Homo sapiens: one gene and its partner. The protein of the gene in region 2 interacts with the protein of the main gene of each other region in a pairwise test. Each region holds a gene or a part of one and is shown on either strand. Other genes may lie near its edges. The genes, in order: ETS2 and EGLN2.

Region 1 (3,810 bases), on a different chromosome or scaffold from region 2:
TATAACTGGTTTGCCTTGCTCCACTGGGTCACTCCTCTCTTGGATGTAATCCTTGAAAGACATGGTTGGCTTATTGAGGCAGAGAGACTGGCTGCAGTCATCTTCGAAGCTCTCGAAGGAAGGAACCCGTTGCACATCCAGCAAGGACGACTGGCTGTTCCAGGACTGGAGGAGGGAGTCTGAGCTCTCGAAGCTGTCCGCACCGTTCTCAGGGGAGTCGTGGTCTTTGGGAGTCCCTGGCAAAGACAACCAAACACATACTTTGATTCCTCCAGGACACAGTTGGTCTTGGGCACGACCATAGCATCACCAACCACTACCAGTGCAATCATGCACCTGCTGGTGTAGAACCACTCAGACTTCTCAAAATGCTCTCTACTCAGGTGCTTATTCCTTAGGGTAACTATACTACACAAATCCTATCTTCCATCAACAGTAGAATGAATAAAATTCTTATAATGGAATACTATACAGCGATGAAAAAGAACACATGGCTGCTACATCCAACAACATGCATGAATCCCAGACATGATGAGTAAAAGACAAACACAAAAGAAAACATGCCTTATGATTCCATCTATGTAAAGTTCAAGAAAATCAAAACCTAATCCGTAATGATAAAAGTCAGAATCGTTCCCTTCTGTCGGGGGGACATTATTGATGGGAAGGGGTACGAAGGAATCTTCCAGGCTACTGGAAACTTCTCTATCTCCATCTGGATGGTTATTACATGGGTATACATACATACACAAATCCAACCAGCCACATGACCTGAGACTTGTGCACTGTATTTATGTTACATCTCCATAAGAAGAAATGTCACATTCCTGCATCGCCTCCATAAATATCCCAAAGTGTGGAGAAATCTGGCTGTAAGAGCAGGGACTGTTTTGTTTACTCAATGCCTGCAGTACCTGGGCCAGTGCCTGAAACATATTAGGGGTATGCTTGTTGGAAATCCACTTAGAACATGGGCTTTGACCCCCTTCTCTAATGGCTGAATCCAGGAAGTATTTATTAAGAGGTTCATTATGGCTCTGGGGTTCTCAGAATCAAAGCAACAGCCTTGTTGAAAGATGCTTCCAATCTTACCAGAATTGTTGGTGAGCAAATTCAAGTTGCTGCCTGGGAAGTCCTGACTGACAGAGCAGTAGGTGACGCTGACGGAGCTGAGCCGAGACTTGGGGAACATCTGAAACTCCTGCTCAGAGCTGAGTACGCTGGGTGTGGAGGCCGGACACATGCTGTCCAGGAGGCCGCCTTTGGGGTAATTCTGTGTCTGCATTCCATAGGGCGCCTGCTCTGTGCCAAAACCTGGAACAGAACAATCGGACGGCAGAGCTCTTAAAGTCAGTGTTACCCCAGTAACTAACCCCTACGAGCAAATGACAGGTGAGCACTCCGCACACTCCAGCCCTCTGCAGAACCTCAGTGGAGACCCGGGCTTTGGTGGGGGTCTGTCACCAGGCCTTCTTCTCAAACCATTCAGCTTCTCAACCAGCAGCCCTCTGCCAAAATGACTGCAGCCTCTGCAGGCAGGACTCAATGTTCCTATTTCTACAACCCTAGTGCTTTCATGGGACCTTCAGGAAGACAGGGCTCACTGGCTCTTTTAGCTTCCGAGGAGAGTAAGGCTCAGACAGACCAAGTGACGTGTCATGTACTGTGTGATTCATAAGGGCAGAACCAGGCCATGAACCCTGTGTGCTGAGGCACAGCCCACTCTGCTTTCTGCTCCTTCATCACACCGCTCCTGTCTCTGTTCATTGCAGAATAATTTATTTTCTGGAGAGGGAAGGAAGCTCTCTGACTCTGATTCAGGTTCAGGCAGGCACAGGGTGTCCCACTGTCATGTTCAGAAAGACCTCCTGAGCAGGAAGCCCCCAGTGGGGCAGAGAGGTGGGCTTCACCGGGTCTGAATGGTGGAGCTGGGGCCAGAGAGAAAACACTGGGCCGGACCAACACCACCCAAGCCTGCTGTTCCGAGGACCCCTCCCTCGCTGGCCTGGCCAGACCCTGTGCCCTCCCCAGTATCAGCAACCAGAAGAAAGGACCCAGATTCCATGACAGCTCTTTAAGCTCCCAAGTTCAGAGCCAGTTTACAAATTGCTTTTCACGCACTCTGTGCCTGCCGCCTCTTGTTTGCTACACTAAACCAACATTACTGGTGACTGCGGTAATCAGCTCACTTCGTTCTGCTCCTTGCTCTAAGAATTGCCTGGACTAGCACTAACAGTGCTGACCTATGGAAGATCGTGTGAGCCACTTAAGCAACTGCGAAAGTTCTAGTGGCCATATTAAAAAAGCAAAAAGAAACAGGTGAAGTTAATTTTCTTATTTTACTTGGCCTCATATAGCAATTATCATTTCAATATGTAATCAATACATTAAAAATTATCAGGGAGACATTTTATATTCTCTGTTTCATACTAAGACTTCCAAATCTGGTGTGCATGACTATACTCTTCCTACACATCTCGATGTGGACCAGTCACATTTCAATGGCTTATAGCTCAACACCCACGTGTGGCCACCATAAGAGACACACAGGTCTAGGTGGCCCCTTAGGAGCCTACAGTAGAGAGATTCCAAGTCTACTGGGAAGACTGAAGACAAAGTTCTTAAGGGCAGAATCAATCGGACTGACCTAATGTATTGCTGTTAATCCAATGAGGAACGGAGGTGAGGTGTGAATTTTCTTCATATTGATCTTCTGTCTTTTCTTGGTTTTCTGAAAAGCAGACACAGGAGACGTAAGATGGCAGATGTAGGTGAAAACTACACAGAACAAATTGACTTTCTGAATTCCTGTGAGATGATAATTTTAGAATGATGAGATGCACGGAGTGCTTCACATTTAATCTCATGGTGCTCCACGTCCCTGCCTGTCTTTTTCAAAAAACGAGAGAAAGCAACCCATTTTTCCAATTACTAAAATAAATTTTCCAAAATGAATGATGTCATTGGCAACACTAAATTTTCTATCGCAAAAGGTCCAGATGGTGTATTGAATTCATTCATGCATTCAAGAAACAGTTAAGTATTTATGAAATGCCATCTGTACCAGAGGCTGCATACAGGAAATTAATAAAATGGATGGTGTCTGCCCCCGTGAAGCTTACAGTTCCACTGCTTCCAAACCTGCACGCTTCCCCAGGGTGTGGGAAGTCTCCAGGGCTGTGGGAGTCTGGGATGGGGAACACATGTGCCCAAGAACTTTGAAAGGGAAAAGGTTTGTGCACTGTGTATGCATACTTACTACGAATATATTACAAAGTGCACGTCCACCCGGAAACCCAAATACACACAAACTCACAGGCCCGAGGAATGGTAAAACAGGCCCAATTTGCCAATAAACAGATCACCAGAAACTTGGTAGAAAAGCCCTGTCCAAGTTCAGAAGAAATGAGGGTCTTTAAAAATGAGTTTCCCTGGCCCTCAGACGCCGTAACTAAAAAAAGTTAGCTGTTGAATCCTAGGTGTTTTCGAGATTCTGAGTCTACAGTTGATGCTGAAATTCAGTGTGTTTAAAATCAGTCAGGTGAGGACTAGTTCCCTGAATTCTATAAACATGCTTATTTTCTTATATTTTTTTAACCTAAATAATCCCTACTGTATTTTATTTCTTTCCCTCCCTCCCTCCCTCCCTCCCTCCCCTCCCTCCCTCCCTCCCTCCCTCCCCTCCCTCCCTCCCTCTTTCTTTCCTTCCTTCCTTCCCTCCCTCCCTCCTTCCTTCCTTCCTTCCTTCCTTCCTTCCTTCCTTCCTTCCTTCCTTCCTTCCTTCCTTCCTTCCTTCCTTCCTTTCAACAG
Region 2 (3,682 bases):
ATCGCCACAGTGGTTCTTGACTTTGCCAGGAACCCTCTTAAACTCATGAGAGCTGCTGACATTCACAGCGTGGACCTTGGTGGGGTTCATGGCCTCCTGGTGTCAGTCTGTGGCCCCAGACCAAGCACGGGGATGTAGATAGGCACACAGTTCACCTGGCCGTTCTCTGTTGCTGTCTGTCCCTGTCCACATCCTTCCCTGTGCTCCTGTCGTCCATCCCTGTTTGCTGGCCCATGTTTCTAGTCCATCCATCCTGTCTCCAAGGCAGGAGAAGCAGAAGGGGGAGGGTGGCTGTGATGAGTGAGCCCTGGGCTGAGGGAAGGAAAGGGGTGCTGCCCGCTGGGCCGAGTGCTTGGCCCTGGACTGCATTGTGCCCTGGGTCCCCACTGTGGCATCTGCATCGAGGACAGTCTCCTGGGGGTGGTACTGGGTGGCTGCCTGTTGGCCCAGGTGGAGCTCATCCCCATGTCTCCCACCCTTCACTGTCCCAGTCCCTGCCCTCCATTCCCCCTGTCCTGTGTGTCACTTCCTCCCTACCCATGTCTGTCTCTTCCTCTGCCTTTATGTGTTTGTTCTTAGTCCCTTTTTCTTTTTGCTTTAGAACAATAGTTCTTAATGGTATTTTGGAGCCTGGGTCTTTTTGAGAATCTGTCAGAGGCCACAGATCCTCTCTTAAGACAAATGCTCATTTGCTTGGAGTTTCCGGGCAGTTGTCAAGGCCTCATGGCCTCCAGCTGCCTGTTCAGGAACCTGGGGTCAGGAGCCCAGCACAGGACAGTGGTCCATAGGGCCTTTCCGGGCTGCTGACAGGATCATTGTCTTCATGGGTGGTGTGGGGGCCTGGCCTTGAGTCCAAGGCTTGGTGTCCTTTGGACAAGGCCCTGTGGGGAGTGCCCACTGCTCAACACAGTGATGCCTGGCTGGCTGATGGCACGGGCAGTGTTGTGCCCTGCAGGCGTGAGGCTGAGCTCCTGATGTCCTCTGCCTCCTCCTGCAGATCCCATCTTGGGTTCTGCTTCTGTGTGGCTTTCCTCTCAGGCTGGAGCTGGCTCAGGGACCAGGGCTCCCCCGGGGCCAAGGCCTGTTTCCTCCCCACCCCAGCTGGAACTTGTTCTACTTCCCTCTCCCTCCCGTTACTTGATAGCTGAGCCAGAGCCGGCCCCTCCCTGGGCTTGGCTCCTGTGCGGGCGGGATCAGTGGCCTCCCTGGCTCAGCATCTTCACCCCAGGTTGGCTGTCGTCCTCGTCAGGGGGAGACCAGAAGGGCTGAGTGGCCCAGATGGGACACTGCTCTGAGCCTCAATTTGCTGATCCACGGAATACGAAAACCAGGTTACATCCCCAGTGAGTCTGGCAGTTTGGGGAGGGGAGAGTAGGAGAAGATCTCTTGTGTTTTGGTGCCTCTGGTGCCCACTTTCTATGTGGTTGGGGACAGGGCCCCAGCGAGGATTGGGGAAGGGGCGTGTTTGGACTTTTTTAGCCCTAGGTGACCTTGATTGTCCTAGGGAAGTAAGGACAGGCCAGGCTGGACTGAGAACATAGGGGAGGAGCCCTCCCCTCCCCAGTGAGACAGCAACTCCAGGCTTTCCCGCTTTTAGATGGGCCCCATCTGGACTCTCTCCTGTACTCCAGAGTAAGGCTGTGGGGTGCTCAGGTGGGCTGCAGCAGTTGCCGTGGGGACATGGATCACCAGTGTGGCTAGAGCCAGTAGAAACGTGCTTCTTAGTCGTTCTGAGTGGAGCTCCTGTGTCATCCTTCCTTCCCCCAACTCCCTGGTTGGGGACAGGTGCTCCGTTGACCTGTAGGTGGGAGAGAGTTGACTCCCACTGGCAGCAAGGGCTACCAGAGGGGACCCCAGGGAGAGTCCAGCTTGCTTGGTTTGCTCCTTGAAGAGCAGCTTGGAGGTGGGACAGTCACAGGCTTCTGACTGGGGTGTGTGTGTAGTGGGGGTGGGGCTCTTGGCAGGCAGATTGTCACCAATAGCCTTTAAGTCTTTGGTCTCCTGGCCCTGGTCCCACCTGTCCCTCCCCTAGGTGGGAGGGGTGGAGAGCAAGTTTCCTGAGGCCTTCCCCTGTGAGGGCAGGAAGTAGATACTTTCCTTGGGGCCAGAGGATGCTTTCACCCCCAAGGTGTGTATATGTGGGGGAAGGGTGGGGCCCTAAAGAGCAGGTTCCTGTTTCTGTGTGAGTCCCATGTGCTTGGTGGGAGGCGCTGTGTGAGAATGTACAGGGCAGGAGGAAACATAGCAGGGCTGGGGTGCAGAGGAGGCCCAGAGCAGTGCACTCCAGTCTGCAGGTACTGCACTGGGCACTGGGGAGACCAACCTGGCCCCAGGGGCTTCCCTGTGGCTGCCTTCCAGGGCAGTACTAGGTAAACAGGTGCCTGTGCTGATGCCATGTTGCTAGGAGTGGAACGGACAATCAGCCGGAGTACTCAAGGTGACCCTTGGTCTCTGAATCCTGAATAACAAAGAGGGTCAGAAGGAAGAGTGTCCCAGGCCAGTGCTGAGGCCTTGTGGTGGCGATGAGCTCAGCCTGTTGAGGCATGGAGCAGAGTGATGGGAGAGGCACATGAGGTTGGGGGCCTTTGAGGCTGTGGTTGGGAATTTGTATTTTCTCAGGATGGAGTGAAGACCTGGAGAGGAGGGGCTCTGGCTGCTGTGTGGGGATGAATTGTGGGAAGAGGGTGCAGCACTGGACCCCTTCCCTGCCACCCATCCACGTGCATCATCAGTGTAATCTCTGATTGGATTCCTAATTGGGGAGGTCTTGCCCATCTCTAGTCAGTAACTCACTGTTTCTAAGCCTCCTGGACCATGGCCCAATTCTTCTCCCAGTGAGGTGGTTGCTCAGAGTGCCGACCCTTCCATAGGGAGTGAGCAGTGCAAAGAAGGTGCCCCCTCCTGAACCTTGAAGTGTAGCCATTAGGGTTTTCCCTGGGGGGCCTTCTCACTAATTGTACTCTGGTGCTGCCAGAGAGAAGGTTGTCAGCTTCCCACTGCTAGGTGGCAGTAGATGGTGGCAGCCCTCTCTTTCCAGGGCAAGGTCTGGTGGATGAGGTGCACATGGTTAATGCAGAGCAGCTTAACATCCACCACAGAGGGTGAGCCCTGGGATAATGTGTTGGGAGGCGTCCTGGGGAGGGTGAGGATTGAAGCAGCCCAGTCTGCTGTGGCGTGCGTGCTTGGCAAGCATCCTGTTGTGGCAGTGGCCACTGATGTTTGATCGTGAATGTTTATCTTGGGACTGTCTTGCTGGGCCGGGCCCATAGGTGTAGCTGAGCATTCGTGGGGAATGGACGCCAGCAGAGTTGTACCAGGGCAGAGAGGTCAGGGCAGAGAGGTCAAGACAGATGGTCCGGGCTGGGGAGAAGTTGAAGGGTCCTTGTGCCAGTCCTCCCCTTTTTGTGTGCTACCTCATCTTGCCACTGCAGTGACTTTGGGCAGAGGGTGGGACAGGGACCTTTTAAAATTTTTAAATGGCATTTCAGCCTGTGCTCCAGTTCTCCATGTGGCAGGCACTGTGCTGGCTGTCTTCCCAGACACTTGTTATCTTGTTCACTTGTTCCACAACAACCTGTGAAATAGCTGTGAGCTCCATTGGATCCATGGATGAGGAACCTGAGACCAGGAAGTCACCTGCCTGATGCCACAGCTCATGTGGCAGCACTGAGACTTGAACCAG

The links.
Region 1: the proteins of EGLN2 (region 2) and ETS2 interact in a two-hybrid assay, tested with the Homo sapiens proteins (one large-scale study listed by BioGRID and IntAct).

Annotation. Positions count from the first base shown.
Region 1 is NC_000021.9:38,815,929-38,819,738, reverse strand, and holds part of ETS2 (protein C-ets-2), read right to left. Parts: intron 2,732-3,810; coding exon 2,648-2,731; intron 1,315-2,647; coding exon 1,093-1,314; intron 237-1,092; coding exon 1-236. UniProt on the Homo sapiens protein: Transcription factor activating transcription. Binds specifically the DNA GGAA/T core motif (Ets-binding site or EBS) in gene promoters and stimulates transcription.
Region 2 is NC_000019.10:40,801,893-40,805,574, forward strand, and holds part of EGLN2 (prolyl hydroxylase EGLN2), read left to right. Parts: intron 1-3,682. UniProt on the Homo sapiens protein: Prolyl hydroxylase that mediates hydroxylation of proline residues in target proteins, such as ATF4, IKBKB, CEP192 and HIF1A. Target proteins are preferentially recognized via a LXXLAP motif.